Homo sapiens: one gene and its partners. The protein of the gene in region 4 interacts with the protein of the main gene of each other region in a biochemical or structural test. Each region holds a gene or a part of one and is shown on either strand. Other genes may lie near its edges. The genes, in order: PALLD, ARHGAP6, KCTD3, MAGI3, NHERF1, PTH2R and SLC45A4.

Region 1 (3,500 bases), on a different chromosome or scaffold from region 4:
TTTCTTTTCTCTAGCTTACTTTAAGACTACAGTCTATAATACATATAACATACAGAATACGTGTTAATCAACTCTTTGTTATCAGTAAGGCTTCTGGTCAACAGTAGGCTGTTAGTTAAGTTTTTGAAGAGTCAAAAGTCGTATATGTGTTTTTAGTTTTGTTTTGTTTTGGAGACGAAGTCTCACTCTGCTGCCAGGCTGGAGTGCAGTGGTACAACCTCAGCTCACTGCAACCTCCACCTCCCGGGTTCAAGCAATTCTCCTGCCTCAGCTTCCCGAGTAGCTGGGACTACAGGTGTGCGTCACCACACCTGGCTAATTTTTGTATTTTTAGTAGAGACGGGGTTTCACCATGTTGGCCACGATGGTCTCGATCTCCTGACCTCGTGATCCACCCACCTCAGCCTCCCAAAGTGCTACAATTACAGGCATGAGCCACTGTGCCCGGCCATATGTGGGTTTTTAACTGTGCTTGGGGTTGGTCCCCCTAACTCCCGTGTTGTTCAAGGTCCAACTCTAATGGGAAATATTCACTAGTTATTTCAGACAATGTCGGCGAAAATGTGTTTCTCCACACAAAATTATTTTGCATAAAACTTAGGATAGGAAAATGGAAATGTACTGGAAAGGAGAATAATCAAGAAGAAGAATAAAAAGAACAGGTATCACTGATGGAAAGAATTCTGTCAGTCACTTAACATAGTATGTGCTCAATAAAAATTAGCTGTGAGGTTGACTGATGATATTAATACTGCTTTTCTGTGACTTGCCCTCTACTTTCCACAGAACTCATCCCAAGAACAGTATCCATAAGGAAGATGGAAAAGGGGGACAGAATAAATGTTACCCTAAGAAGTCCAGAGCAACATGGTACCTGATTAGCTGTTTCCTCTTCTGGCTCCTGAATATTAAAGACAGTTGCACTGTCAGCACCTAGCAGTCGACGAGCCATTCTTTCTTCGTATGTTAACCTCTAAACAACGTAAGTCACAAAAAATACAAAATTAGAAAAAAATCACAAATATGTACTGCCCTATGAAAAAGAGTAAAAAACAACACACTTTCATGATTTTCTGTAAGTGTTCTCTCTCCAGCTTCAGATACCTGCATATTTCTTTTTCTTGCTTCAGTTGTTCTACCTTTTTACCTCCCTTTCTAGTACTAATGGCCTAATCCAGAGAGCCACCAATTGGTACAGCACAAATTTAAAGTGAGCAATAAGCGACAAGGAAGAAACCACACAGAAAAGATTTGTCATGTCCTTAATGAAAAACATGGAAAAAAAGATATTTAAACAGCAAAATACAATTTAAAAGAAATGTTATTTTTATAGCCATCCATCAGCTTCAGAACACCCAAGTCAGCTCTAATACTGACTGAAAGAAAAAACAAAGATACTCAAAAGGAGAATAAACTGACTAAAAAAAGAACAGGTATCGCTAATGGAAATAATTCTATCAGTCATTTAACAGTATGTGCTCAGTAAATGTTTAGCTAAAGGAAGATGTGGATGAGCTGGCAGTGATGGGGTTCTTACCTCTAAGAGCATTTCCCAGGCTGCTGTGTAATGTAGGGGATTGGCGGCAACTATTATAATCCACAGAGAATGATGCACATGGCTGAATTAGCAACAGGATTACACAAGACACTTGCCAAAGCTAACAGCCTCAATTGACTTGACCCAGAAGCAGACTGCTTGCCCATCAGGCAAAGAAAGTGGTAGTGTTCTTGCATCTCGCAGCTAGCACTTTGGAATTGGCCCAAACCGTTTTACCTATGCCATTCTTATACATAAGAAATGCCGGCATTTTTGTGTGACTGTTGGGGTGATACCTGCTCTTGAATACTCATTCTAAAGTGCCTTAGACTTACAGGTTTGGAAGGAACTTTCAGATACCACCTGCCTCATCGGGAGCATTTTATAAGCAAGTGTTTGATTAGAAATAGAGAATAATTGGTAAGGCAGAATCTAAAAAATGTACAGAAATTATTTCAGATAAACTTCCAAACTTCTAAATATAAATGCAAATTTGATTGGAAGCTCTCTAATCAGGAAAATATGTTGGGTAAATTTACAATTTCCAGTAATTGCTGATCTCAATCCCAGCTGAAACCGGGAAGTGAAACAAGTCAAGTGCCAAATGACAAATAGTCCTGCAGTTCAAATTATTTCACTTAATAAAGAAAGGTCAGAGGACAAGAAGAGGCAGAGGTAGGAGTCTGAGGGCGGCATGAAGCATCTGAGTCCACTATGTTATTAAATTAATTTTCTCACACCTATTAAAAAATCAGTGAATTCAATTTTCAAAGAGAGTCTTAAATACCTGATCTCTTAAAAAGCTTCCCTAATCTTTTCACGGAGAATTGTAACACATCAAAGGCAGGCCTGGAGTGATTTTCACTCTGTTCCTTATAAGCAGAAATATCAATTTCATATCTATTCCTTCACCAGAATGCACCTGCTACCACTAGAAGCCAAATATACTTCACAGTTTTTTTTCTAAGTCACTATGCCATCTGGCTATAAAAGCCCGTGTCTACAGACACCAAAGATAAGAAAGAGAATGATATATAATATTAGGAAAAAGTTGGTTGAGAATCCCATTTTCTAAAAAGGGAAACCTTACTTGTCATTTTAAGCTCTCAAGTGTGGATACCTGTGGAACTTACTGTGAATGTTATTCACTGCTAAACAGATGAATATAAATATACATACAATATATATAATGTGGGTTGACCAATAGCTTAAGGAAGTCTTACCTTAACCAAGAGAATCTTAGTTCATAAGGAACATTGACATAGACAGCCAAAAAGAAAAAAAAAAAAGCTGGAGTGATGCCTTACCTGGCTTGAAAAAGTTCCCATATGTATTTATTTTAATCTTTTAAAAGATTTAGTTGACAGAGCCAGGGAAAACTTCCAGAGTATGTACATTTACACATGCAATCACTTATTTCAGGGAGAAAATATTTTCCTCTTGTGAAAATCTTCTATACTCAGTGAAATGAGTAACTAACACAAAACTTCATTGAAATTTTAATCTTTCTTAATCAGATTAAGATACCCTAATAAACTAAAATCAGCATTCAGCACCCCTCCTCTGCTCTCCAGCTTTCAAGTGTGGTCTGTTCTCACAGTTTTACTTATCAATGTTTGATAATTAAAATTCTCAGAAAACATAATTATAGAGAGCTTTCTACTCTGAAAAAGGTGTCTGAAAGGGAGATTTTATACAAAAAGATCCTTGTCTTGTACTTAAGAGCCAGGCAAATTTTTCCAGTGACAATTCCTTAATAAAGCTACAGAAGGTTCCTCTCCTTTACCTGGTAAGTCTTATTTTCTAGATTTGCTTTTCCCATCCCCTTAAAATATTCTGGAAATAGTATTTTAAAAAGAAAAGAGTATTTTAAAAGGATAGCATCAACAAAAGAGATGAAAAAACAAACAAAAACTGATGAGGAAAGACTTAAATCCAGTGGAGAAAACATCTTATCTATATA
Region 2 (3,500 bases), on a different chromosome or scaffold from region 4:
TATATAAAGAGTTCATAAGAATTTAAAAAACACTGGCATACATAAATAGGAAATGATATAAGTAACAATTCAATGGGGGGAAGTTCAGCAAATTAATAGAAACACTGAAAAATACTGGTAGGAAAGAAATGCAAATCAAATTAACAAATGCAATTTTGTTTTTTAAGTTAGCAAAAGTGAAAACCCACTAACTTGCAATACTGATGAGATTTGCACACAGCAGTGTAAAATCTCCTGCCATCCACAGTTTACAGAATGTAAGGTAGTGGGTCCCATACAGCACAGGAGGTGACTGTACCTCCAGATTCTTGGAAAGCCTTGTTATATTTGACGCACTTCCCTGTTTGGGATTTATAACCTTTGACTTGCTTTCCAAAATTTTGTGAATCTATTAATAATTTGAAAAATTAATTACATAAAAGAGGCTCCTGAAAGTGTAACTTATTACAACAATAACAAAAAATTTCAAATGACTTAGTATTGGTTTGTAAGCTATGATTATGCACTCTGTGGAATACCCCTGGCCCTTAAAAAGGATAATGGAGAGTAACTGGAAAATGGAAGTTAGAAAATAATACAAAGTTGCACAGACAGAGTGACTGTAACTATGAAAACCTTTGCAAAGGAAATGGAAAAAAATATAGTCAAAGATTGGCATATTTGGGTGGAAAGCCTAAGGATAGTTTCATCCCCTCCCATTTTCAGCATTTCCCAAGTAATGTTTGACAAGCATGTAATATAATGATAGTAAAGAAAACTTTAGAAAATAATTTTAAAAGTAAATGCAATAAAGTTTAAAATTAATACTTCACCTGTCATTCCTGGGTCTTTGGATCCGCTTTTTAATGTTGAATGCCAAGTTCCCCAGATATCGAAAGGCTCCTCTGACAGATCTAGGGAAAAAGTGTATAAAAAGGTATATAACACAAAAGGAAAATTAAAAATCAATGAACATTTTAATAACATCTCTTCTGTGCAAAGTATTGTATTCAAGATCCTGTTGTATACAAAACAGAATACAATTCAGATCCACCTTTCAGCGTGTTCATTCTACTTGGGATTTACAAAAAGGCCCTTTCTATATCATGCTCGTGGTAGACAGAATAAGGGCCCCCCCAAAGATATCTGTGTCATAATCCCACAAATCTACAAAGATGTTATTTTCGAAAAGGGCTTTGCAGGTGTGATTAAATTATGGTTCTTGAGATGGGGAGATTTTCCTGGATTATCTGGATGGGGCCAATATAATTACAAGGGTCCTTATAAGAGAGGGGTAGGAGAGAAGATGTTGCTAGACTGTTGGCTTAAAAGATGGAGGAAGGGGCCTCGAGCCAAGGAATGCAGCAGCTTCTAGAAGCTAGAAAAGGCAAGAAAACGATTGTGCCCTAGGACGTCCAGAAGGGAAAGAGGCCCTGTGGACCCATTTTAGACTTCTCACCTCCAGAACCATAAAATAATAAGTTTGCATGTTATAGGAAATGAATAGAAGGGTGATGGGTGACAACAGCTTTATAGGTGCTAAACACATTAACACAGAACTAGAGGAACAATAGAGTTTCTGTACTATCCTCAGGAATACTTTGCTATTGGTATCACTGGATTTCTTCATGCATGCATTCACTCATAAATCCCCTTAGCTTATCCATCAATATTTATGGAGTAAGGCACTACATTAGGCTTTTTCACCATCTCATTTAATCCTCACTACAATCCCATGATGGGATTATAATTACGATTTATAGCAGCAGACGTCTACTGGGTGCCTCCACGTGTTCAGCAGTTCACATGCGTTATCTCACTTCATCCCTAGGAGGTTCCCAGCAGATCATTTTACAGACGATGCAACTAGCGTAAGGAGCAGGTAAGAAATGCACACAAGATTACACAGCAAGTATTATCGAGTGCGTATTACATTTGAAGTGCTGCGTTGAGGGCTTTACATGGATTAGTTCATTAAACTCAATGAATTAAATACTGTTATCATTCTGAGTTTTCACAGCAGGAGGAAATGGGACTCTGGGAAGCTCAATCGCTCACTGGAGATCCTGCAGGTTGAAAGTGGCAGAGCAGGTTTGTGACTCCCAGTATAGTGCTCTCTTGTCATTGGATACTAACACTATTTGGTTCTGGAAGGTTGTCTTCATACATATAGTAGGTTCAGCTTGTTTTCTTTAGAAATGTAACAGCAGTAATTGGGTGGCACCTCAGACTAGCAAATATGCAACCCAAATCCAGTATACATAAAGTTCCTAGGATGCTGGAGGGAAAAAGAATCAGCTGGGAATAGGAGTGGCTCCTCTGGGCATGCGTTTATTTCCCAGATATCTGAGACTTGGAGTGTGGCCTGCAGGGACCCTCCCAGCCAACGACTGGGCTCGCCATACCTTCCTCTTCCTAGAGTAGGCGTTCAGCAGGTACTCGGTAAATGCAGGTTGAATTACAGAAACATCAAATAAGGGAGAGACGAAGAGAAGGTCCGAAGAGCCCCACACCATGCCACATGCAACAAGAGGAGGGTCGCTTGTTTTGGCCAGCGCCTGCTGGCCAGGCTCCAGTTACCTTTCCCAAGCCTTGGTCCAGGAGAACTTTCCCTTGACTTTGACGACGACAAGTGGCCCACCAGCATAAACTGCCCTGGCACTCTGTAAAGCTTCTCCGAGCCCCCCGGGGCCGCGTCCTCTTGCATAGCCAGCAGGGAGCGCTCAGACAGCACTGGGGAGTTGTTGTCATAAGGGGAGATGTCTCCGCTGGAGGCCTTGTTGGAGTCTGTAGATGAATGCCTCCCTCCCACGGAAAAGGAAACTTCCGACTGCAGCATGTCAGGGCTTCTGGCACAATGAGACAATTACAGGTGCGTGAGTTTGTTAACAAGTAGTGACCAGATTTAAACAATATGGCTATTACACAAATGACTGGAGGAGTATGCGTGGACACGGGCTGAAACAAAAAGACCATTTTGAGCAATGTTCCAAGACATGTACATCCATGACGTGAAAGGGTTTCAACGATATGACCAGCAGAGGGCAGTAAAACCCAACAGATATAACAGGAAAAGGCAATGATGGAGAAGGCACGGTGAGAATGAAACCGACAAGGAGCCCTGCATTTGCCAATGGGCATCGCTAAGTGCCTCAGGGACTCATTCCTGCTTCCATTTTTAAGTGAAAGTCTGATGCTCACTATCTATTAGGTAAGGATACACTAGTAGATAACTCTTTCACTTTCCTCAATATCCTGCATTAAAAATAATTCAGATAAAACTATGGTTGACACTTTGCTTGAAGTTCATTATGGCTTTCTGGACAACTTTTCCATCCCACCAAAATACTTACTGTACTTAGTGTAAATAAATCCATCCTTCATGTGATAAAGATGTTGATGCCACCGGTGGGAATAAGTGTTTCATGTATAAAGTAGTGACAAAAACAATAAATATATGACCCTCACTAGACTCCATTTTATTCAAATACATCTAAAATGATTCTACAAGGCACTAGTGC
Region 3 (3,500 bases), about 100 Mb from region 4:
TGTCTTGAGGTACTAAATCTGCAATTAAAAATCATCTGGTATTATAAGTGAGAACATGATTTGAAATTTCAGTATTAGTTAACTTGTTTTAATACACTGGCTAATGATTTACAAGATGTTTTATAGTTATAGCTGTACCAATATATTTATTACAGTTAATATTTTTAAACGTTGCTACTTTCAATTCAGAGTTAAGATTATACAAGCAGCTCTCAATAACAATAAACAACTTGTTATCCGCCATATAATGCATCTTAAAACACTACTTTCCAATAAGCTAATCTCTGCTGAAGAATCAACAATTAGCCCATCACACCAAGTCTCAACTTCTCAGTATAACATTCAAAATTACCTTCAGGTTCCATCTCATCTCTCCAGTACAAATGCTGGTTTTCCCCTCTAATAGGACAAAACTTCTTCATATCCCCAAAAAATTCATGCTTACTACCATTTTGGTATCTTTATTCAGCTAGATCACTCTCTTCATGTCCAATAATTCAAGATCCGTCCATCTTTCTTGATACCACTCAGGTTTTACCTTCCCTGTAATAGTTTTTCTAAATATCCAATCCTGTATTATCTCTTTTTAAGCTCATAGTAATTTCACTGTAAATTACTCATTTAACACCTTCTTTATAGGCAGTCTTGGGCTATCTGCAACTGCTGACTTCATTCATTCAAAAATCATTCAGCCAAATACATCACTGTTCTGAGGTTGTCATTTGATCAAGCTTGTATATTACCAAGGGAGGATCTTTACCAAAGTACAGTATAATAGACTGGGACAACAAACCAATAATTTATGTAAACTGATATGGCAAACAAAGCAATATAGTACTTGTTCAGTCCAGCCCTTCTCTGAGTATTTTCATTTTAAGATATCACCTTGAACTACAATGTTATCTCACCCAGCCTAGCAAACCTCTACTTTCACTCCACATTTATTTTCTGGCATTATATGAAATCCCTAAATTTATTTTTACCTTTCATACTTAAACTAAACAAGGTGACTGAATAGTGGCACTAGTTACCATGCACTATCACCAGGAAACACAGGCCAAACCCCAGCCAAAATGGCTAAGGGATGTTTCCCAGGCTGTGCATGTATACACTGTATCATCCATCTATTGTCTGCCATTACCTAAATTAGCAGCCTGGAATTATCAAAAACGTGGAAGTTGCTTACTTTTTTTTATTATGCTCACTGCAGCATAACAAACCTCAAAATACATCCTACTTCCCATTCCCATCTTCTAAGTGGGCTATTAAATAGCACTGGATTGCAGGCCAGGGTGACTGTGACTACCAAGGCTTATACAGAGTAGTGTCAGAAGTCTCACAGATCTCTCAACTTTGCAAGTCCATCCAGGCACCTGAGGCAACAATGGCTCATAATATTTTACATATCTTGATAAATGGATTATCTGTAAATTCACTTTTCAAACTCAGTTTCAGAAATGGATTTTGTATTAAAAAAGTAGATGTTGTTTTTTCTTAAAGCCAGAGAGGACCACCTAAAAGCATTGTTCTTAGCACCTAGCACACACCCAGTAAATGTTTATTGAAACTTATGTGTGATAAACAGAATCACACTCTAAAACTCAGTTAAATGTTCTGTACAAAACGGAGACTTGATTCTTCTGTACGATCTGCAGGCATTTTATGGTTACAACAGAGCACTTTCAGAATACACTGGTGTTGACACACAGATGTCACTAAACTGCCCACTTAAATCATTTAGCAGTATCAGTCTCAGTGTCAGTAACAGCAGAAGCCGTGTATGCACTGTTCCATAAAAAGTGCCTTAGTCTCCAAAATAAATTTTCTATCATTATCAAAACATGCTTTCCAATCACAATTAAAAGTTTATCTCGGCTAGGCGCGGTGGCTCACGCCTGTAATCCCAGCACTTTGGGAGGCCGAGGCGGGCAGATCACGAGGTCAGCAGATGGAGACCATCCTGGCTAACACGGTGAAACCCCGTCTCTACTAAAACTACGAAAAATTAGCCAGGCGTGGTGGCGGGCACCTGTAGTCCCAGCTTACTCAGGAGGCTGAGGCAGGACAATGGCGTGAACTCAGGAGGTGGAGCTGGCAGTGAGCTGAGATCGCGCCACTGCACTCCAGCATGGGCGACAAAGCGAGACTCCGTCTCGGAAAAAAAAAAAAAAAAAGTTTATCTCCACTTCTTCCCACATACAACTTTACAATTTGTAAGGAAAAGTATTCTTTCATTGGCTAACTGAAGGAAAGACAGTAAAACAATTCATTTATTAAAGACATTTAAATGTAAACTACAGTAAGGGGTACTTTAGGGAACACATAGAAGTTGACTACTAACTAATTTCACAGGTTATGGACAGTCTAGGTGTTTATAAGCAGTTCCTACGCCCATTTATCTGATTAACAAATGAGTCACTTTAAGAAAACACTGCAAATGCTCCTAAATGCGTTTCTTAATAGACTCTTAAGAAAAATAAAAAATACACAGATTACCCCAGTCACAGAAAACTGACTTGGTCCAAAATCAAAGCAAATCCACTCAATGGTAAATTGAAGGATCCAAGGATTCATACATTGCAGATTCACTGTTTTGGAGGCCATCAAATTCATTCCAAATGAGGACAGCTTATAACTTGCAATCTTTTATATTCACCACTTATTCACCAATTGTATTCCAAATAATTAAAATTATGTGCTACTTAGAAAATCACAAAGGTCTGCTTAAAATCATATTATCAGTTTCAATTTTAATCAGCATTTTGGGGAAAGGTTAGTAACCTGGAATTTCTGGGCAAAGGAATTAGACCCTCATCCCCACCAATTTTTTTTTAAACTTCTGGCCCCAAAACCAGTCTCGAATATAACTTCATGAAAACTAACACACTTAAAATTACACATGATGAGCATAATCATTTGAAAGCCTTTTCTGTTTTGATTTGTTTTTTATCCCATACCCATAGTGTCCCAAGAACAGAGTCATGTACAATCTGGTTTCAGCAAAGGACTAAAGAAATTTGCATACCCACAGTTATACTTCATGCAACTTGCCTCCTACTAAATTAACTTGGTAGCAATCTAACTAGTTATTTATTCTGCACTGTAAGTACTGATAATGCCACTAACCCTTGCATTTCACATTTATTACTTCAAATTCCTATAACAATCTGATAAGATTGGTACTACTGTCTGTCACTTTACATTTTAATAGACTAAGTATCAAAATATTTGTCCAAGGTTGCTAGGCTAGTTAGAGATAAAGCCTGGGAATTGGAAACATATACCTGACTCAAAAGCTCTTTGTCCAGGAGTCCTCAATGGCTAGTCCCAGCCCTCTTGCATGAGGCCCAAAATCACACTTGCCCATAACAGAATTAATCATAAATTCAGTCATAGTGAATTCACTTCATTACTTTTTGTAAATAACGAATACTAACAATTCTAAATGAAACTTCATCTACTCTACTTTCTGAATCACCCACAAAGTATTAAACCATAAA
Region 4 (3,500 bases):
CATTTACTCTCACTTCCATATACTCAGTATTACACTGCCATTAACTTCTAATGCTGTCCAATCAATATAACAATGTTGAATTCAGAATGATCAAACTTGAGTTTGATATTTGACAGGTGCAAATGACCTAAGTTAACACTTGGGTAAGGTACATTAAATCTGTACAGGCACTGCTGTATAGAGTGCCTGTAAAATACCTTATTCCTGCTCTCAAGCTAATACCTTTCTCTCAGAAAAGTATTCCATATGAACTACTTACCTAGCCTAGTTTTGCAAAATGATAGCATTTTAAAGGAAAATAATTAAGAGCTAACATTTATTATTAGCCCCATTTTCTAGGTGGGAAAACTGAGGGTGTAAGTAAGTTGGCCATTGTCACATAGCAAGTGGTGAAGCTAAGATTTAAATCCAGGTTGATTTCCAGGGTCTAATCTCCTAACTCATACTGTCCTACCCTCAAAGGGTAGGTTGTATTCCTTAGAATATTAAGCAGGAGGATTGCTTGAACCTGGGAGGCAGAGGTTGCAGTGAACTGAGATCGTGCCACTGCATTCCAGCCTGGGCAACAGAGCAAGACTCCATCTCAAAAAAAAAAAAAAAGAATATTAAGTCACAAAAATCTATTTCATGACTAAAATTTTTCCTTTGGGAAAATATTAATGTTATTTATAGGTAAGAAGTATTTACTGTAAAGAGAGAAGAAATAAACATGTCAGGGAACTATGTAAAAAGTGAGATTAGTAAATTCCTGATAATATTCTATAGAAGCAGTATCTTTTGATATATACTTCCTATTAAAATTGTAGAACTTTAGAGATTAAAAGAGTCCACTTTGGGAGGCCGAGGTGGGCGGATCACGAGGTCAGGAGTTTGAGACCAGCTTGACTAACATGGTGAAACCCCGTCTCTACTAAAAATGCAAAACTTAGCCAGTCATGGTGGCATACGCCTGTAGTGCCAGCTACTCAGGAGGCTGAGGCAGGAGAATTGCTTGAACCTAGGAGGCAGAGGTTTCAGTGAGCTGAGATTGTGCCACTGCACTCCAGCTCCGGGTGACAGAGCAAGACTCTGTCTCAGGGGAAAAAAAAAAAAAGAGTCATCAGTTCAACTCACTTATTTTATGGGTGAAGCCTGATGGGACTGCAGAGTTTATACCAGTATTAATAATGTATCAGGCTATGAATGGAAAGTATGAAGAAAGGGATTCTACATTGTTATGCTAATTTAAATTATTGCTTTGCTGGGCGTACAACTGGTTTTCATCTTTCTGAATATGGCTTGGGATTATCAAGATGTACTTCTGCAACTAGTTAAATAAGCATTAAGTCAACTATACATATATTCCACTTGTACATATCTTTTCCAAGGTAGATTTACATCTCTTTCTAAGAACAAATAAATTTTAAAAAATTATACCTACTCAAATCTGCAATTTTACTTTGGAAAAGATTTATCATTAGTAAGTGAATTAGTAGGAACATGCATGAATTTCTGCCTTATGCAGTCTCTCTTTTTATCTCTCAGCTGGACTCCTGTAAGGAGTCAACTCTTTAGTTTCTTCTTCAAATTGCACACCCTCCCTCAAATTGCATACACCTCTGATTCATCCTTCATACTCCTGCCAGAAAAACCTTTCTAAAACACAAAACTATGCCTTCCTTATAGTTAAAGGCATTCTGTGGTTCTCTGTTATTTATATGACCAACTCCAGCTCCCTTGGAAGGGCATCATTGGCCTTCCTCAATCTGTTCCTGCTCTCCTCTGTGACTTTCCTTGCCAATTGCACCCAGCGAAAGTGAACTACTTGCAGAGCCCAAGTCATGCAAGGCCAGTGTGCATGTGCTATTCCTTCTATCTTTCCCTTTTATCTTCCTCAAAGACACTTTTTCATCCCTGATGACTTAGTTAAAGCTTTGCTTCCAGTATGAAGCTTTTCCTGACACTTCCTACTGCCCACACTGATAAAACTGAATATTCCTTCTTTGGATCCCAATTTATCCATTTCATCTTTCTATCACTGTACCTGTTAGGCTTATTATGTGTACTTATTTGTATACTATTTGATTACATATTTGTCTTTTTCCATTTAGTTCTAATAATATTTTTGGGTGCAGGTCCTATGTAACCTATTTATCTCTGTATTCTGGTTACCTAGTATGGCATCTGGTAGATAACTAGCACTTAAAGCATGATTTTGAAAAAAATGAATGTGTGAATGTCGAATATACATGGAAGAAGTCCAGAGTTCTATTAAAATGGTAATGAAGGAATAACTTTTCAATATGCTTCTGAAAGATGGGAAGGTCCTAGTCTAAAATAAATCCAAATTTATCTTGTTATATGCTCTCCTGAAATATTCCACAACTACTTACGTTTATCTTCATATAAAGTCTTAGATTTCAGGTAGACCTCAGAAGGATCCAATTTTGGGGATCCTGACCTGATAATGCTCGGTGGAAAAGGCATAGGCTGAGGAATAGGCTCATTTATGGCCTCCAAACTTCCTGCATTTTCCTTTTTATCTGTTTTCTGAAATGGAAAAGAGCCTTACTTAGTATTTTTTAAAAAGCAGATGGTTGATTAATTCATAAAACTGATATCTGAAATGGATATGTCAACTGATTATAGTTGTATAGGTGGCAGGATCAAAGACACAGCAGATTTACAGTTACAGGAATTCATTTTCATAGCAATGTGTATTTGGTTGAAACATATTTAACTTAAATTAGAAAAAAGTTTATAGTAATATCAACTGAAGAGCCTTAGTTAGTCCTATGTTTAAACAATTTTGCCCTTTTCTCCACCACCAAGACACAAATTGACTTTGAGATGAAGATAAATAGAAATACAATACAAGGCAGCACTTCTAAGTAAAGTAAGAGGGAGATTCAGAGAATATCTTCATAAAATTCTTAGCACGGCCCACCTCCCATTCACTGAGTTTAATTTCTAAGGAAGATGTTTAAGATAATACTCTTTCTAAGAAAACAGGAGAGGTTAACTCTAATTTAGGTTATAAAGATGGCACTGTGAAAACCCTGTCTGGCCAATTCACATATATTAAGAGAAAATGTACCATGCAAGACAATTAGATAAGGGAAAGCATAGTAGCATATTTTGATATTTTTCCTATTCAGCTAGAACTTTCCCAAGATAACAGCCAAGCAAAATGACTTATTTAATAAAATGTTAACAATGAAATCCAATAAATGGCCTAAGAAATATGGTTTTGAGACCAGCTCGTTTTCCTGGATTATTGTTAGGAGAGGGAGATTATGGATGTTTGTGATCATTAACAATGACTAGAATGCAGGGGCACCAGTCTGTCAGGGAGTAATCAGGGGTCAGCCACTACAAAGTGTCGTGCTAGAGGGGACCCTTCAATCACCCAGACCCAATGAGAAGGCAGAGAAGCTAACAGTAGTCTCCTACCCTTCCCCATACATCTTAGCATTCTGTCAGAGGCGGTTAAAGTTCATCAGACCCTTCCATCAATTATA
Region 5 (3,500 bases), on a different chromosome or scaffold from region 4:
CTCTGCCCACCGGCTTTGCTTTGTGGATGGCCTTCCCCGCCTGCCCCGTGGGGAGAGAGGAGCAGCAAGACCCGCCCTGCTGTTCCCCTGCTTAAAGCCCTCCTCCCCCCATTCACCACCAGTCACAGGATGAGGCCTAAACCCTTGAGTCTGGGTTCAGAGTGCCGGCCGGGCAGAGCCGAGCCAGCTCAGCTGTACTAGCCAGGCTGTGCGAAGCCAAGTTACCTCACCTCTGTAAGCCTCCATTTCCTCTTGTGTAAGTTGGGGGTTATGGCAGCTACCTCGGAATTGCATGAGGCTGTGTGTAAAGCACGTAGCTCAGTGCCTGGCACTGAGTCCAGGCTCAGCCAGCCTTTGCAGTTGGTATTGGAATGAATACATATTTCATAGTGATCATTGCACACCTATCATGGGGCAGCTAGCGCTGGGTCAGCCTGCCTAGTTGGGCAAATGCCACTGTGGCCAAGCCTGGCACACAGTCAGTGCCTGATCGATGGTCACTGTGGGTTAAGAATGATACGTTGTGGCCAGGTGTGGTGGCTCACACCTGTAATCCCAGCACTTTGGGAGGCCAAAGTGGGAGGATCGCCTGAGCCCAGGAGTTTGAGACCAGCCTAGGCAACATGACAAGACCCTGTCTCTATTAAATTTTTTCTTTTTTTTTTTTAAGAGTTATATGCTGTTCCATGGCCCTTCTCCATCTGGCAGCCTGTTCTCACCACTGCCTCCCTACCCCCAAAACCACACCCAGGGTCCGAATTCCCCTCTAGCCTCTAAGCCTTCACACCCTGACACTTCTGTCCCCTCCCAGGGAGCCTGTCCTTAATCCAGTAGGCAGAGTTAGCATTTCCTTTCCTTCACTTTTTTTGTTTTTGTTTTTGTTTTTGTTTTTTTTGAGACAGATTCCACCCAGGCTGGAGTGGTGTCGCAACCTCGCCTCGCTGCAGCCTCGACCTCCAGGGCTCAATCGATCCTCCCACCTCATTCTCCCTAGTAGCTGGGACTACAGGCATGCACCACTATTCCCAGCTAATTTTTAAATTCTTTGTAGAGATGGAGTTTCACCGTGTTGCCCAGGCTGGTCTTGAACTCCTGGGCTGAGGTGATCTGCCAGCCTCGGCCTCCGCCTCCTCTTTGTCCTTACATCTTTTATCGCTCTAAACACACAATATTTTAATCATCTGTTTGTGACCTTTTTCTCCACTACGTGGTAAGCCCAAGGGCATCAACTGTGGCCTATTTGTGTTTCTATCCCCAGCGCTGTCCTTGGCACATGGTAGGGAGGCTCTCAAAAACAGTTTTTGAATTAATGAATGAATATATAACAACAGTCAGGGACCTTTGTCCTCATTCAGCTCATCCCGCCCCGCCCAGAGATTGGAATTCCAGATAGAACCTACCCACTCTTCTTTCTTGCCTGCTAGCAGCTTCTATTTGAAAACTAGAAAGCCAAAAGTCCAGGCTTTGGGGTCAGCCAGATCAGTGTTTGAATCCCAGCTCTGCCGTGTGCTGGTTCTGGGATCCTGGGAGTTCATTTTTCCCTGCAACCCTCAGCCTCCACCTCTGTGAAAGGCACTGCCTGCAGGGTTATTGGGAAGATTTGGTGGCATGACAGGTTTGTAAATGAAAGTGCTAGTTTGGGGTGTTTCCTGCCAGCCCTGACCCTGATCCCAGAGTCAGAGTGCAGGCACCCCAGGGAGCAAGGTGGGTGGTGGGGCACAGTTAGCTGGAGGGCCATCAACCTCTTTCCCAGGGCGGGCGGGCCATTTTACACCAACCAAGTTGGAGCTCTGGTAGGGCAGAACAGAGCTTGAGCTGCTGGGTGTTTGGATTTGAAATGGACAGGGTATGTGATTGTTTGTGTGTTGGGATCTCTTTCTTTGCTGGCAAAACAGTGTAGCCCCTGGTTCTTACCTTCAAGCTCCTGTTAACTCAGTAATTCTGGAGATGATTCTCTTGGAGATAGATGGGGGCTTCCTGGCCGGGCGCAGTGACTTGTGCCTGTAATCCCATCACTTCGGGAGGCTGAGGCGGGAGGATCGCTTAAGCCCAGGAGTTTGAGACCAGCCTGGGCAACATAGTGAGACCTCGTCTCTACCAAAAAAACAGGGGGAGGGGGGTGAATGGGGGCTTCCTTCTCAAGGAACTCCATATGTCTAGATGGGGTCCTTCTCCCCTTTCCCAGATGTCCCATCTCAATGGTCCCTGGGAAAGTGGGGTGGGAAATTAATAAGAAACTCAGGCCAGGCACGGTGGCTCACGCCTGTAATCCCAGCACTTTGGGAGGCCGAGGCGGGTGGATCAGTTGAGGTCAGGAGTTGAGGTCAGGAGTTCAAGACCAGCCTGGCCAACATGGTAAAAACCCATCTCTACTAAAAATACAAAAATTAGCGAGGCGTGGTGGCAGGTGCCTGTAATCCCAGCTACTCGGGAGTCTGAGGCAGGAGAATGGCTTGAACCTGGGAGGTGGAGGTTTCAGTGAGCCGAGATCGCGCCACTGCACTCCAGCCCGAGCAGCAGAGTGAGACTCATCTCCAAAATAAAAAAAAAAGAAAGAAGAAGCTCAGCCGAGGTCTTGTTGGTGCTGCAGGACTCTTTACAGGGAGAAACCAGAGCTCTAGACCCCAATAACAAATGTTCCTCTGTTTTCGTTGCTCTAAGATAGAGTGGCCCTACCTGGAAGGAAACAGGTTTGTACAGTGCCTTTAGGCACTCTACCTATGACATAAAGATGTTGACATGCATTTCTTTCTTTCTTTCTTTCTTTCTTTCTTTTTTTTTTTTTTTTTTTTCCTGAGACAGTCTTGCTCTGTTGCCCAGGCTGGAGTGCAGTGGTGTGATCTCGGCTCACTGCAACCTCCGTCTCTCAAGTTCAAGCAATTGTCCTGCCTCAGCCTTCCATGTAGCTAGGATTACAAACACCCGCCACCACACCCTGCTAATTTTTGTATTTTTAGTAGAGACGGAGTTTCACCACGGTGGCCAGGCTGGGTGGCACCTGTCACAACACCCTGCTAATTTTTGTATTTTTAGTAGAGATGGGGTTTCACCACATTGGCCAGGCTGGTTTCAAACTCCTGACCTCAGGTAATCCACCTGCCTCGGTCTCCCAAAGTGCTGGGATTATAGGCATGAGCCACCACACCCAGCCAATATGCATTTCATTGTCCCCCAGACAAATTAGCTATTGTTTTCTCTATTTTGTAGGTTGACAGTAAGTGTTCAATACATGATAGCTACTATTTGTGTCTAGCACTGTGCTAAGTACTAACCTTGCCTGTCTCATTTAATCCACATGACCACCAGTGAGGCAGATATTGGCCCCATTCTCTGCCTATGGAGGCTGAGGCTTGATCAGTTAAGGTGGCCATGGCGGGTCCCAGGACTCTGAGCTAGCGACTCCTCCCACACAGCGCAGGGGTGTGTCTTGGAACCCAACCCTCTGACTCTAGTGCCTGCACAGCCATTTGGCCACATGAGTAGGCTGTGCTTGAAGCCTG
Region 6 (3,500 bases), on a different chromosome or scaffold from region 4:
CTACAAACATAAAGTATTGTATGGTAAGAATACAAAGAAACCTTTTATTTCGTTCATTCAAAAATATTTACTGAGCTTATGCAGTGTGGTAGCTGTTCAGCATGACAGGGGCAGGGATAAACAATGTAAACAAAACAGACAAGTTCCCTGTTCTAGAAAGGAAGAGACATGGATAAAATATAAACAAATAGCACATGAGAAAAATGCAAAATGAGAAGGGTTATGCAAGAAAAGAAATGAGTGATTTTAAAAAGAGTAATGTAGTGGATGTATTAGATGAGGAACTCAACAAAGTATCTCTGAGAGTGATACTCAAGTGTGTTTGAGTGACAAGAACAAGTAGCCAGCTGTGTAAATATTTGGGGAAAAAGCAGTCCAGGCAAAAGGAATACAAGTGTGAGCCCTAGAGGCAGAGGTGAACTTAAGCAACAGAACGTATGGAAGCAATATTGTGCCCTAACTTAATGAGCTACATGGAGGCTGGTGTGATACAGGGTGAGAGGCAGACAGGCTCCACGACATGCAGGGCTGTGTATGCCAAACAATGGTATGTGAGTTTTAGTTTGACTGCAACTGGAAATCTTTGAGTATTTCTGGCAAGTATATGACATGATCAAATGTATATTCTTAAGATTCTCCAGACTATCATATGTGGACTAGCAAATGAGTAAGCAGGACAAAGAGTAATCCATGTGCGAGATGATGGTAATTACAGCTTCAAATGAGATAAAATGTGTGCCAGCAACCTCTTCCTCAGTTTTGTCTCCCCTCCCCACTCCTTTTTGCTCTTTCCTGCCTTCACCTTCTTTTACTTTTGTTTATCTTCCATACACACAAGCAGAGGTCCTCATTCTTATAGGTGTTACATATTTTACAACAAGATGTTCCTTATCTCTCTGTCCAGGCTTTTTTTGTGTGACGAACAGCTCCAGAACTGCTCCTGCTGTGAGCAGAGGATTAACCTGACCTCTATAGGACAGAAAAGCACAGGCACTATAGAAATATTGACCTTTCTGCACCCCCCAACTCCCCAGACAGGTGCATCAAAGCCAGAGAGAGTGCAGAGAAAAAGGTTGTAAGTGACCAAAAGGAAAAAAAACTGCAAATTACAAGAATCAGATGACTAGGCAGCACCCTTTACCTGAAAGGAGTTGAAGAAGAGCTCACAGTGCATGCGGATCTCCCACCCGAGCCCAGTGAAGGAGTGAGGCAGGCATACGAACACGATGTAATGCACTCCAAAGACTAGGACCAGGACCAGTGTCGATTTGGCCAGTTTCCTAAAGGAGAACAGCAAGTCTTTTCATTCATTAACTAGAGTGCCTTTCAGTAAAGACAGCGTGCTGGAGGAAAAAAAAAACTTAGCAGAGCTAATGGGGGTGGGGCTGACACTTTCTTTTTATCTTTTCTTGAGACAGGGTTTCACTCTATCTGTCTCCCAGGCTGGCGTACAGTGGCGTGATCACAGCTTACTGCAGTGTCGACCTCCTGAGCTCAAGCAATCCTCCTGTCTCAGCATCCCAAGTAGCTGTGACTACAGGTGCTTGCCACCATGCCTGAATATTTTTTTAATTTTTTTGTAGAGACGGGGTCTCGCCATGTTGCCCAGGCTTGGGCTGACCTTTCTCTATCTCTTTGGATCCCACTGCTTCTGCTAGTTTTTTCCCTTCCCTCCTCTTTCTGTCACTTACATACTAAACCAGGTAGTTTATTCTCACTCCCTGTAATTGCTAGCCCCTAAATCTCTCCAGTCTTATTTCCACTCCTCTTGCTTAAAGGAGTCTATTTACATAAAGTTGTAAAATGCCTTTTTTCTGTCCTAAGTTTCCTTTAACTTCTATATTTGAGACTTAAAGAAGTGTTACTTCTATCCAGATTAACTGCCTTTACTTTCATAGAAGTAGTTTAGCTTATTTTGTTCATTTTAAAATCAATTACTCCCTTGTTTCTTCTTACATTTGTATCTCCATTTTTCACTGATGATGCTTATTTTGGGAGACATTTTATATTTTTCTATGAGCCATATGTGGTCAGTTCATCTTGACTTCTCTGAATATTCTCTGCCAAATACTCTGTCTCAAGGTGCCTTTAGGTCTATTTTGTCTGTCTTTTTGGCAAACTAAGTAGTTTGATATAGTTTCATCATTCTCCTTAACTGCCTCTTTCTACAAGTTTTCTTAAGTATTTGGAAGAATTCCAGGCTTTCCAATATGATGGTTATTCTAAGTGGGCTTCCATGATCCCCCCTCCTGCTATTTTTGCCCCTGTTTTATCCTTTCCCTCTAAGTGTAGGCAAGACCTGGGACTTGTGTCTAACCAGTAGATTATGGCAAAGATGACAGCATCCCACTTCTGAGATTACATTGCATAAGGCTGTAACTTTCATCTCACTAGCAGACTGGCTCTCTTGCTTGGTTCGATGAAGCAAGCCACCATGTTGTGAGCTGCTATACTGAGAGGCCCATGTAGCAAGGAAAGGTGGCATCTGGACAACAGCCAGCAAGTAACTGAATCCTACCAACAATCACATGAACTTAGAAGTAGATTCTTCCCCAGTCCAACCTTAGGATAAGACCACAGCCCCAGCTGACAAATCAATTGCAGCCTGGTAAGAGATCCTGAAGCAGGGGATCCATACCCAGATTCCTGACCTACAGAAACTGGGAAATAGCAAGGGAGTTGTTTTAAGCCGCTAGGTTTGTGGTCATTCCTTTTGCAGCAATAGATAGCTAGCACCCTCAAGCATACTATTTTCTGGGAGGTTTTCCTGGAGTGGGTGAGGTTATACTTTTTATCCAAGAAATTGCCAAATCTGGCTTCTTCTTTCATAATTATTGCAAATATCTCCCTTTCTCTGTGAATTATTTACACTCTAATAATCTCAAACAATTGACCCTCTTCCTTTCTCACTAGTCTTTCCTCCTGCTGCTTTATTTATCTGTTTTTCTTCTTGGAAATAAGCTGTATGAGTGAGTACAGATCACACTAGACTAAGGCTACAGAGATCTTGATTCAGGTTCCATACTTGATATTAACTACCTGTGTGAGTGTGATTTAGTTTTATCTCCAAAATGAGGAAATAGGGCCTAGAAGTCCATATGAGCTATAATATTCTCAGGCTTTACTGGGAATCATCTTCCATGTACATACACTTTCCTATCATAACCCTCTTGACAATAGGAGCTAGAATGTCCCATAAAATCATGTTGAAATCATATTGAAATGCCTAATGTAGAAGTAGGTAGAGTTGTACATTTCCTACACCTCATTGTCCTCTGCCTGTCTTATCTCTCACTAGTACCTGAACCATCTGCTCCACCCACTCATCCTCACATTCAGAGCTTCCCTGCAGCCTACGGGCTTTCTCCTATGCTGCTCCTGGTACTCACACCTCCTACTTTGAGTTACCTACAGCCTATTCAATATGAAGATTCTACCTTAAATCTATTCCATCCAAGGCAAGATCCTTGATAAACAGTGGGTTCCTCTGACCTAACTGG
Region 7 (3,500 bases), on a different chromosome or scaffold from region 4:
TCTTTCAAGGACTACCTGCTCAGACGTTTTCCGCACCCAGCCATGGGTCAGATGCCCTCCTCGGGGTTCCCAGGCCTGCCCCATCACCCTGGCCAGATGGCTGTCTTCTCAGGCACCTGCCTTGAGCCTGGCACTGAGCAGCCACCTGGGGACCATCTCCAGAATGGAACATACCACAGCAGGCCCAGTCCCCTGCTAGCTCACAGTCTGAGCCTAGTGACAGTGCCCAACAAGAGGGCAAAATTGGGCACCAAAGGCTCAACCCAGCAAGCCAAGTGGCCAACCCGAAAGAAACAAGGAAACAAATTGGAGCGGCAGCACCTCCTCCCTGACCTCCGCAGGAGCCAGGGAGCCAACCCAGAGGGCAGTGCCAGCTGGGCACAGCTGCCCATACCTGTGGCAGCCAGGAGTCCTTCCTTCCAAGCTCTTGGCCAGGGAGGAGGGGTGTGGGAACTAGCATGCTGCGTGGGCCAACAGCAGGGCTGGCCACAGAGCCCCCTCCAGCAGCAGCTACCTGGCATGGGGAGTGACCGCAAAGGTGCCTCAAAGTCGAATCCAAGGCATGGAGGGCACTGCTGCATTTCTCCACGCAGAAGACAAACGGCACTTTTCAGTGGGGGGTGGGGGGAGCTGATGAGCAGTGCGACCCAGTGGCCCACAACTGCACTAGGCCGGCCGTATCCGGTGGCTCCTCTCCCTCACCAGTGCCCCCACCAGGCGCTGCTCCAGAGGTCCCAGCTGGGCGCCCGGCACGGATGCAGATGCCGCACTGTCTAGCAGCGTGAGTGCTGCTGTGACCCCTTCTCAGGCGCTTACTGAGTGCTGGAGACAGAAACCCCTCACACACCCTGGTTACCACACGGAAGCAGAAGCTCCGAGCACTGGGTGGCTTCTGGAAGGTCACAAAGCCAAGGAGGGCCCAGCCCGGACTATAAACTCTCCCTGCACCCCACCCACAACGAGGACGCCAGGCTTCATGATGTTTCTACGGAAGGAGAAAGCGGACGGGGAGCCCCGTGCCTTTAAGAATTAAAAACACTCTCGACACCTCAATAGTTCAGTAGTGGACTAGACATGTTTTCAACAGCCTTGATATTCCCTTCGGCTTACCTAGGGAGACACCTGTCACACTAGAGACACCAGCTCCAGGCTGCAAGTCCATAACAAGACCACCTGAGCTGTGGGTGTCGTTCTCGCCACCAAATCAGAGCTGCCCTTCAAATGGGCACGGTTAGGGACAGCAGAGCGGCCGTGGCCGCAGCCCCGGGATCCGGCTTCATCCAGCAGAGGGTGGTGGTGCGCAGGCCCTGATGGGGGAGGACTTCCACACTCCAAGCTTTTAATGCCGTTTTACGTAAGCAACACGAAAAAAACCACTAGCAGTTATTCTAGTACTCCTGGCTGGGAGCGGATTTGCATACTGAAGTAAAGCCTCAGGTTAGGGCAGGAATTTCTAGAACCAGCTGGACTCTGCTGTACCTGTTCTTCTTCAGCAGCCAAAACGTTTCTCAAAGTCTTTTAAGAGACTGAAACATTGATTTCAGTATTAATACCCAAAATACCACGAAAATATAAGGATTTGCTGCTTTGGAGAAGGGACCAATGGAGGATCCCCTTTCCAGGGTGATTTAATCCGGTTCTGTGGGGGTAATTAGGGGCTGGCCTGTCTTCCTGGTCCCGTTCTTCACTGTTTAAACCGCAGGATTCCTAGAACACGACCGTGGAACTGCTCTTCTCCTCACCCATCCCTGGAATGAAGGCACTGGCCCCATGATCTGACGACATCATCGCCTCCCCAAATAGCTGCATGGCCGAATTGGAAGTGACGCATTCTTAGTGGACTCCTAATGGCCAGCCCTGAGGACAGAAGACAGGTTAAAACTTCAGCCGGACCCACATTACCGATTCCACAGAGTTGGGCGAGTAGCCTGCTTTCCTCCAACAAAGCTGGGAGACACCAGAGACCCCAGGTCCGTCAAATCTCCTCTTATGTCATAAAACCATCACACAACGCAAAGTTCTACTGCTCTCAGTCCTCAGCGTGCTGTTTCTGAGTGGGATGGGAAGTGGTGGTTTTTTGGTTACTAAACTGATTTTCTTACCAAATTTCATTAGGTCTAAAGGCTAAAAATAGTAAATCTTTCTACTTTTTGAGCATCTCCAGATTTGAGCAAATTCTCAGGGATGCCAAGTGTCAACGCCCCGGACCAGCCTCATCTGGTTCTCGGGCAGAGGCCCACCTTCCCAACCCACCCCATGGCCCTGATCCTAATGGCAACCTGATGGCCTGAGACCAGCTGCCTCGCTCCGGAACAGGCACAGCGATGCCCTGTGCAGGAAGAAGGGCGGAGCAGGGTGACCAGATTCCTGCCAGGCAAAAACCTCTAGCAAATCTAAAGTCTGGCCATGTCAGTCTTCTCTGCTTCTAACACACCTTTCTGTCAAATTAAAATTTAACCCGAGGCACAATTCCACTGTCTTACATTTTAGCCCAACCAGATGAAAATGCCGCAGCGTGCTTACTCGTGAAATGGTTCATCTTCTGCCCTTTAACACTGCGCATTTAGAAAACAGGCAATTAAATAGTAAAGCTTAACATGGAGCAGCACGGACCCCGTGACTCGACGAAGTGGCGTGGACCTTACCCGTGGACCAAGTGTGCGAACACAGCACAGCAAGCGCCCCGTGCAAACACAGGAGCATCCTGAGGGGCCTCCGGTGTGGGGAACTCAGAGAGCCGCAAGGTCCCCACAAACGCCTGCCTAAAACTGGACTGCCTGAGAAGCTGCTGTGGAGAAAGTCCCGGTGCCCAGGGAGCCCCCACCTCCAGCCTGCCTGCCCCGCCTAGACAAGAGGAAGGCACTCTTCCCAGGGAACGTTCCAGCAACAGAGATGTACCCGGTACCAGGGACAGTTCAATTATCCCTTTAATTAAGGCACCTTAAACGGGCCCCACCCCCCAGCTCTTTGAGACCTCCTTCCGGTGTATTTTGTGCATTTAGTAATTGTTTATCAAGATCAATGATATTTATGTTTCTGTGATCAATTCTGTACTGATAATTACAATGACATAAAACATTCTTCTGGATGTTAACATAGCCTAATGATCACAGAAATGTTTTAAATTGCAATATATACTTTTGTCACAGAGAAGTATGGAGAACAGTCCATAGGTCGGGTGCAGTGGCTCATGCCTGTAATCTCAGCACTCTGGGAGCCTGAGGCAGGAGGGAGGGTCGCTTGAGGCCAGGAGTTCATGACCGGCCTGGGCAACATGGTGAAACTCTGTCTCTGCCAAAAATACAAAGAAAAATTAGCTGGGCATAAGCCCAGCTACCTGGAGGGTGGAGGTGGGAGGATCACTTGAGCCGGGGAGGTCGAGGCTGCAGTGAGCCATGATCTCACCACTGGACTCCAGCCTGGGGGACAGAATGAGACCCTATCTCAAAAAAAAAAAAAAAAAAAAAAAAAAAATCCTGGGCAACTCAGTGAGACCCCAT

The links.
Region 1: the proteins of MAGI3 (region 4) and PALLD interact in a test that uses a peptide from one of them, tested with the Homo sapiens proteins (one large-scale study listed by IntAct).
Region 2: the proteins of MAGI3 (region 4) and ARHGAP6 interact in a test that uses a peptide from one of them, tested with the Homo sapiens proteins (one large-scale study listed by IntAct).
Region 3: the proteins of MAGI3 (region 4) and KCTD3 interact in a test that uses a peptide from one of them, tested with the Homo sapiens proteins (one large-scale study listed by IntAct).
Region 5: the proteins of MAGI3 (region 4) and NHERF1 interact in a test that uses a peptide from one of them, tested with the Homo sapiens proteins (one large-scale study listed by IntAct).
Region 6: the proteins of MAGI3 (region 4) and PTH2R interact in a test that uses a peptide from one of them, tested with the Homo sapiens proteins (one large-scale study listed by IntAct).
Region 7: the proteins of MAGI3 (region 4) and SLC45A4 interact in a test that uses a peptide from one of them, tested with the Homo sapiens proteins (one large-scale study listed by IntAct).

Annotation. Positions count from the first base shown.
Region 1 is NC_000004.12:168,892,052-168,895,551, reverse strand, and holds part of PALLD (palladin), read right to left. Parts: intron 1,067-3,500; exon of another isoform or gene 974-1,066; coding exon 875-973; coding exon of another isoform or gene 787-874; intron 1-786. UniProt on the Homo sapiens protein: Cytoskeletal protein required for organization of normal actin cytoskeleton. Roles in establishing cell morphology, motility, cell adhesion and cell-extracellular matrix interactions in a variety of cell types.
Region 2 is NC_000023.11:11,141,421-11,144,920, forward strand, and holds part of ARHGAP6 (rho GTPase-activating protein 6), read right to left. Parts: intron 2,829-3,500; coding exon 2,560-2,828; coding exon of another isoform or gene 2,438-2,559; exon of another isoform or gene 1,977-2,437; intron 894-1,976; coding exon 813-893; intron 1-812.
Region 3 is NC_000001.11:215,570,304-215,573,803, reverse strand, and holds part of KCTD3 (BTB/POZ domain-containing protein KCTD3), read right to left. Parts: intron 19-3,500; coding exon 1-18. UniProt on the Homo sapiens protein: Accessory subunit of potassium/sodium hyperpolarization-activated cyclic nucleotide-gated channel 3 (HCN3) up-regulating its cell-surface expression and current density without affecting its voltage dependence and kinetics.
Region 4 is NC_000001.11:113,645,515-113,649,014, reverse strand, and holds part of MAGI3 (membrane-associated guanylate kinase, WW and PDZ domain-containing protein 3), read right to left. Parts: intron 2,530-3,500; coding exon 2,373-2,529; intron 1-2,372.
Region 5 is NC_000017.11:74,751,628-74,755,127, forward strand, and holds part of NHERF1 (Na(+)/H(+) exchange regulatory cofactor NHE-RF1), read left to right. Parts: intron 1-3,500. UniProt on the Homo sapiens protein: Scaffold protein that connects plasma membrane proteins with members of the ezrin/moesin/radixin family and thereby helps to link them to the actin cytoskeleton and to regulate their surface expression. Necessary for recycling of internalized ADRB2.
Region 6 is NC_000002.12:208,486,792-208,490,291, reverse strand, and holds part of PTH2R (parathyroid hormone 2 receptor isoform 1 precursor), read right to left. Parts: intron 1,281-3,500; coding exon 1,142-1,280; intron 1-1,141. UniProt on the Homo sapiens protein: This is a specific receptor for parathyroid hormone. The activity of this receptor is mediated by G proteins which activate adenylyl cyclase. PTH2R may be responsible for PTH effects in a number of physiological systems.
Region 7 is NC_000008.11:141,298,289-141,301,788, forward strand, and holds part of SLC45A4 (solute carrier family 45 member 4), read right to left. Parts: intron 3,224-3,500; exon of another isoform or gene 1,163-3,223; coding exon of another isoform or gene 1,111-1,162; intron 1-1,110. UniProt on the Homo sapiens protein: Proton-associated sucrose transporter. May be able to transport also glucose and fructose.